2 linked regions of the Homo sapiens genome follow. The protein of the gene in region 1 purifies or fractionates together with the protein of each later gene. This does not show direct contact. Each region holds a gene or a part of one and is shown in the gene's direction. Other genes may lie near its edges.

The links. The genes of interacting proteins can lie anywhere in the genome.
Region 2: the proteins of GPAT3 (region 1) and RAB11FIP2 purify together in Homo sapiens (affinity purification with mass spectrometry; one large-scale study listed by BioGRID and IntAct). This does not show direct contact.

What each region holds. Positions count from the first base shown.
Region 1 is NC_000004.12:83,601,965-83,605,717, forward strand, and holds part of GPAT3 (glycerol-3-phosphate acyltransferase 3), read left to right. Parts: intron 1-2,703; coding exon 2,704-2,803; 3' UTR 2,804-3,753. UniProt on the Homo sapiens protein: Converts glycerol-3-phosphate to 1-acyl-sn-glycerol-3-phosphate (lysophosphatidic acid or LPA) by incorporating an acyl moiety at the sn-1 position of the glycerol backbone.
Region 2 is NC_000010.11:118,040,305-118,043,957, reverse strand, and holds part of RAB11FIP2 (rab11 family-interacting protein 2), read left to right. Parts: intron 1-3,392; coding exon 3,393-3,653. UniProt on the Homo sapiens protein: A Rab11 effector binding preferentially phosphatidylinositol 3,4,5-trisphosphate (PtdInsP3) and phosphatidic acid (PA) and acting in the regulation of the transport of vesicles from the endosomal recycling compartment (ERC) to the plasma membrane.

The sequences.
Region 1 (3,753 bases):
TGACTAGTCCTAAGGCATAGGTTAAGACTAAACATTTGTATTACACTGTCTACATTGGAATATGTTAAACTAAATGACAGAATCATAGCATCACAAAACTATATAAAACGACCTTGGTCCACAGATGTCCTATAACCCATGGTCATACGTGCAACTGGGTTCCTTTTCCTTATTTAAAACTCTTTACTCACTCTTTATCTTACCTGACACTCAGCCCTCCTGCTTCTATCCTGAAGTCAGTGTCTGTAGTCTCAGACACAGGAAGGGAAGAAAGCCTTGAGAGACAAGAACAACCTAGGGGAGTCAGCCAAGTACAGACTCTCCATCAGAGTGGCTGAACTAAATCCATCAAAAATGATCCTCAGAATTGTCCAGTGTCCTTTTTTCAGGCCATATGCAATTGTATAATAAAATTACTTTTAATTACCTAGCCTCTTAAAAAAAAGAAAGTGGCCTCATTGCCTTTCTAGATTTATTTGTCATGTACCTATTGGTTATGAATTAACATATCTAGATTGTTTTTTCATAGATTGAGTGAAAATATAATTTTATGATCTTAAACTGGCTTTTATATATGGCTGCTCCCTCTCTTAAGAACTAAGACCTGCTGCCATTGCAAAGGGGAATTGGATAAAATTTTGAAGTCTCTAAGGGGTGGCAAATCACAGTTTAAGTGCTTAGAGCAGCATGAGGTTTACTGGGTGCTTGGGAAGGAGAATTGTACAAAATGATGTCAGATTGCTCAAGACTTACATTTTTGCCTGTTTTGGGCTTGGATCTTGTGAAAGGAGAAAGGCCTTTCTTATTTCTTTAGTTTCCTTAGTTCTCACTATTCAGAATTCAGGTAAGTGCTGTTAATAGAAGAAGCTCATTTGGATAAAAGAGGCTTATGTGGACAATTCTGTGGACCTAACAACAATTTATAATCTTGTTTCATGAAAACCTCCCACAACTGACCCACTGGATGATTTGTGGATCACAGTCTGTTTTTAAGTTGAGGACTTATTGCTGTGTCTTAGATTTGAGTCTAGAAGCCAGAACATTGCATTTGTCTCAAGCCGGTGTCTCTGTGGAGGTCAAGTTCTGTCCACATGGCATTGAGTTCACTGGCTAACCTACGATCATTCACCATCATCAGAAAGCATTTGGTAAACATGCATGCTTAACTGGGTTAAAATTAAACAGTCAGAGTATAAAGTAAGCAAGTTCTCAGCCCATGCTCTCCTAGCAGTTAAAATCTAAAACTTTAGATTAGGAGCCAGATAGTGACCTATGATAGTCCAAACTACTCCCAGCAACTCCAGTTTGTTGTTTCTTTATGTGTAGTCCAAAGAAGGAAAAGCATGCAGAGTTCTTATACCCAGGCAGGCACCCTGGAGAGAGTTCAAAGATTTACAGGCTCTGAATGAAGGAATGCTGCTTACATAGGCACTTCTGGTTGAATGCAACTTATGATTTTGTTATTTTATTCGGAATCTGTTTTGGAATATAAATGATTATAAATGCTGGAAATATAGTGCTTTGAATGAAAATACAACTTGTTAGACCGGGCACGGTGGCTCACGCCTGTAATCCCAGCACTTTGGGAGGCTGAGGCAGGCAGATCACCTGGGGTTGGGAGTTCGAGACCAGCCTGGCAAACATGGAAAAACCCTGTCTCTATTAAAAATACAAAATTAGCCGGGCCTGTTGGTGCATGCCTGTAATCCCAGCTACTCAGGAGGCTGAGACAGGAGAATCACTTGAACTCGGGAAGTGGAGGTTGCGGTGAGCCAAGATTGTGCCATTGCACTCCAGCCTGGACAACAAGAGCAAAACTCTGTCTCAAAAAAAAAAAAAAAAAAAAAAGAAAATATAACTTGTTAAACATAGATAGGGTTATATTTGAACAATGATTTATCTTTTTTGAATAATCATTTATCTTTAAGAAATTTACCCACACATATACAGTACCCTTACCATTTCTTCTGTGTATATTTTAAATTTTCCTGTGGTTTTCTAGTAAGACATAGGTAGACGAAAAACCAGTATTTTGTTTTCCTTAAGGAATAATATAGAGAAATAATCCTAGTTTTAATAATCCTTGTTTCAATCCAGTTTTTGTTTGTTTGTTTGTTTGTTTTTGAGACGAAGTTTTGCTCTTGTTGCCCAGGCTGGAGTGCAATGGCGTGATCTCGGCTCACTGCAACCTCCACCTCCCGGGTTCAAGCGATTCTCCTGCCTCAGCCTTCCAAGTAGCTGGGATTATAGGCATACACCACCATGCCCAGCTAATTTTGTATTTTTAGTAGAGACAGGGTTTCACTATGTTGGCCAGGCTGGTCTCGAACTCCTGATCTCAGGTGATCCACCCACCTTGGCCTCCCAAAGTGCTGGGATTACAGATGTGAGCCACTGTGCCTGGCCAATCCAAATATTTAATACACCACCCCTTAACTTCTAAAGAAACTGAGTTGGGGATATTGTTACTTATTTTAACCAAACATCAGAGAGATTGTTCCTTCCTCAAAGTAATGTGTATTTGGCAAGTGGTAGGGCAGAAACTGAAACCTGGGTCTTCCTGTTTCCAAATCCAGTGTTCTTTCCCTTATTTCATCCCAGCTGCCTAAGCGTCATGGTATCATGCAGCATGTAATTATTAAGTTAACTCTTTTAAATCACCGCTGTAAAGTATCTTTTATGTATTTGTCTTTCTGTTTGCAGGGATGGAGGACTAAAGAGAGCAAAGGTGAAGGACATCTTTAAGGAAGAGCAGCAGAAAAATTACAGCAAGATGATTGTGGGCAATGGATCTCTCAGCTAAGAGGACGGATGACAGCCTTTAGATCTAGAACTAGCCCTTAGAAATGGAATGGCTTTTTTTGTTTTGTTTTGTTTTATTGTTTTGTTTTTATTATTGTTAATCTTTTCTACAGAATGATTGTCTCTACCTCTTTATGCCAGAGGCAGAACCTACAGGTGCCCTTTTTGGCTTTTGTTGTTGTTGTAACATTAGCCCCATGGATTGTAAGGTGGTTTACTGAGTTAAAACAGATTCTGCTTTTGTAAAATGATGGCATCACTGTGGACTGAATGAAATATTTGTATAGAAAAAAGTGCTTGAAAAGTGTGTTTGGAACTCATCGATAGGGTAATTCTCCAAAAATGCCCAAACTCTTTTTCTGTAATTAGCCTTGCCACTTTCTTCAGTCACTTAAATGGTGAGATTACACATCAGTGCAAGATGACCATTATGGTTATGGTCTACTGCAAGGTTGAAAGGAAAAATGGAGGATTGTATTTAGGAAAAGGGACAACTTTGTGGCCACCTGCTCTGAAAGTCAAAAGGAAATGTAAATTAGTGTCATTAGTGTGTTGGAAGAGAAATACTATTCAGTAAGCTTCGCCAAAGAAAAGTGAGTCAAAGTTAATGTGTGTGCGCATTTATATGTAGGCAGCTCGTAGACCACATTTTAACCAGCAACTGGTAACAAAGAGCTTAGTTTTCCTTGTTTGAATGCTGTAGATCTGTACCTAGTACCCCTCCCATCTACTGATTTGTTTGTTTTTGTAACCAAACACATTTTCAGATAGAAGGAGCCTTAAAAAAAAAAAATCACATTGAGTAACTTCAGTATGAATGAATGAGAGTGTGTGGAGCTACCCCTCACCCTCCACCCCTTTGTGCTTTTTATTCCCGAATTTTCCCAGTCTCTTAAACAGAAAAATGACTGATATAATTATCTTTTGGAAACTGAGCCTTAATTTTTTTTA
Region 2 (3,653 bases), on another chromosome or scaffold:
TTTATTTGTGGATAAATGGGGACCATGTATTTGATGAGATATCTTTATTGGTAATATTTCTAGTTTTTTAATATATTTAATAGCTTCCTTTTCTAGCACAGCTGTACCTGTGGCCCAGTAAGAGACAGACTTGAGCCGCCGGTATATTTCAAGGAAGATATTTAATATTCTGCACATTGCTAAACTTTTTCAGCATATTCCCAAGTGCTTTTTAGAAAACTGTTTCGAGTGATGAGGACTACCAGCTAACTTAGATGTCCTATGAAACTGCTGGGTGTGACACTTTTTACATTTTGACACTGAAGACATATATTTACAGCTTGTCTTCCAGTTGTGTCATGATAGATAAAGAAGTATGACAACTAAAATTATTACTTTACTTATTTTCTTACCTTGAAAATATATGTCTTTTTTCTCTCTTAAGGAATGGGGAAAAAGGGTCTGAGCCAGAACCCTTTGAGTGGGCCTGGGAAGAGAACTTCTGTATCTCCTCCTTTAGAGGATGTCTGGGTTGGTTCTGGCATGAGATTTAAAGAAATAATACAATGTTTAGTAATAGAATGTTAAAATCATTGATGCTGTTGTGTAATATCCATTGATTTTTTACAATAGAAGTAGGTGATGTTGACTTTTTTTTTTAATGCTCATGAAAAGTAATAACAACCAGAGTCTGTAGAGTTAGATGTGACTCAGACATATGCAGATTTTAGGACGTGTGTGTGTCTCAGCGGTGCACCTGTGTCCTGGCCTCTGGCACCCTTACTGCCAATTTTGTCCCATTTCTGACCACACAGCACCAATTGCTTGGGAATAGTTCCCATATGTGTGCTGGTTTTTGAACATGGACCTGTGCCCACTAAAAATTGAACAGAGGCCATGTACAGTTTAAATCCAGTACTCCAGAGGTGAAAAAAAGTCAGCTAATCCAGTAAGCTCCAAATGCTGTGTCTTCGTTTTATCTTTCTGAAGACTGGAAAAACAAATGCTATCTCTGAAATGATTCTTGAAGATCTCATTAAGACTTCCCTATTATGTCATTTTCAAAACAAAGCAACTAAAGTTATTTGTCATTGCTACATTTTCAATGAGTATATTTGTAAAAGTTCTTTGCAGTTTTTTTTGGGGGGTGGGGAATGGACATTATAGTGTATTTACAGTTTGTAGTCAAATACTGATTTGCTTTATTCAGGTTTACATAGGTCTTTACAGTTTCCTACTAAAAAAACAAGACAATGTAAACACATACACACACACACACAGTTGTAGCTTACTTGTAAGAATATAGTTCTAGAAATAAAAATTGAATAAACATTTAATGCAAGGCAGACTGCCTTCCAGGAGCTTATACTCTAGCAGTAGAAAATTTGCATTGTCTTTCTCTTCAGCTCTCATGTCTCCTTATTAAATACAGTGTCCTGCAGTATGTGCCAGCCATGTGGTTAACCTTATTAACATATGTGGTTCATCAAATAAGAAAGAGCTTCTATTTTCCTGCAGATGTTATTCATCAACTTTAGATTTTTTTCTTTATTGACTTTAATCTGACATTGGGAAGTTACATATCATTCCTTGTGCCTCAATTTCCTCATCTATGAAATAAAGATGTTAAAGTAGATGATTTATTGGTCTTATCTCTAAAAGTCTGTGAATTTCCACTACCCCCACCCCCTTCCATTTTGGGGGTAATTAATTTTTTTTTACTCATATTTGCTTTGATTTGTTACATACGTGCTCGTTTTTGTTTGCAAATTTTTGGTACATTTTTTGCAAAGTATATTCACCTACATTCTATAAAGCCTGAGGTACTACAGAGTATTTCTGAGCTACTGTTCGTCAGATGTGTTTCTCTCCCTATTGAAAATAGCTCTGTTTTCCAAAACTTTGAGTTAACTGGGTATATAATCTGCTTCATTTCCAGGCTTTTTGAGTGCTCAATTGTATGTTATTTAAGGTTGTCTATTTCACAGAAATCGCTGTCATTTCTTATTTCTAGCCCCTGTTTCTTCAGATTTTACCATTTGCCTTATATAAGGGATTTTCTCAGTTTAAGGTCTCAGGCTAATAGTATTTTAAAATATTGATATTCTAAGAAATGGCTAGTTTTGATGCAACTATATCTGAATTGATTGAATAGCTCCAATTTAGTTAATCAAGAAAATATTTTTCTTCCATGTTACGTGCAAAGATGTAGCTGGTATTTATATCATGTGCCAGTATTTCAACTTGATATACAGTAAATGTAATCTTCTCTTGGCATATCCAGTTGGTAACAATGAGAGAAAGAACTAATGTAAAATTAGATCAGAGTTCCTTTGTAGCTAAGAAAATTTGTTACACTCGATTAGAGCTATATTTAAATAATAACCTGTGTGCAGGAATGGATATTATGCCTCATTGCTAAGTTATGTGAAAACATTGTAGAAACTCTTTCAGGCTTGATTTTGTAGTTTTTTTTGGCTGTTTTCCCATAGAATGACCACTTGTGACATGGCCAACTGGAGAATTTCTCATGGATAAAAATACTATAAAACCAAAATATTGCTTCTTGTATATCATTTAAATACAGATAGTGCCATACATTGAAGGGACTAAAACGTAAGATTTGGCTTCATTTTCAAAATAATTTTTATTTGGTATTGTCACAGTAGCAATAGTAAAATGAAGCAAATAGATTCAAACAAGAAGCATTTTAGGTTTTTTTTTTTCCTTTTGAAAACTTCACAAGATTTATTTTTTGTCACTTCTTGCATTTTACTTATTTTTTGCATATTTTATTCAGGAGTAGGCTTTGATTCATTTTATGTCAATCTAAATGACATCATATGCTGTTTTAATGATTAGCAAGCTATATGCAATGATCTCCAATGTTAACAAAATTCTTTTGCTACTTTTACGTAAGTAATATTTTGGGATGGGGCCAGGTATTTATTATTGTATTAAAATGTCATGAGATTCATTTTATAATGCTCAAAAATAATTTGTATTGGTGAATTCTTTCAAAATCTCTGCCTCAATGTCTTTTAATGTTAAAAAAAAATGTCCTTAGGCCGTGAGCAACACTTAATCCCATATGGAAAACTTCTAGCATTGATAAGAATTTTTGATGATGAGTGATTTTCAAATTACAAAAGAAAAGATTATCTGAAAACATTTTCAAACTTGCCAAAGACCTATTCATTCCTTCAGTATATGTTACATCACAGAGACAATGATCAGTTTTTTAAACTAAATAATAAGTAAAGCCCGAAATACTGTGGCTGACAGATTCTTATTCAGAGCTTAGGTTGCCTTGATGTATAGTTACTTTACCTAAAAGGCTATTTGTATGTAACAGAACTCAGTATCCTCTCTCTATTATGTGTTACAGCCAATTTTTTTTTCTTCTCTTTAAGGTGGTTTAGATTAGAATCCAAACAAGGAAAACGAATCAAAAACAGGGGTGAGATAAAGGTCAATATTCAGTTTATGAGGAACAATATGACCGCAAGTATGTTTGACTTATCAATGAAGGACAAAACCAGATCTCCTTTTGCAAAGTTAAAAGATAAGATGAAGGGTAGAAAAAATGATGGAACATTTTCTGATACGTCTTCTGCAATCATTCCAAGTACTCACATGCCCGATGCCAATAGTGAATTTTCAAGTGGTGAAAT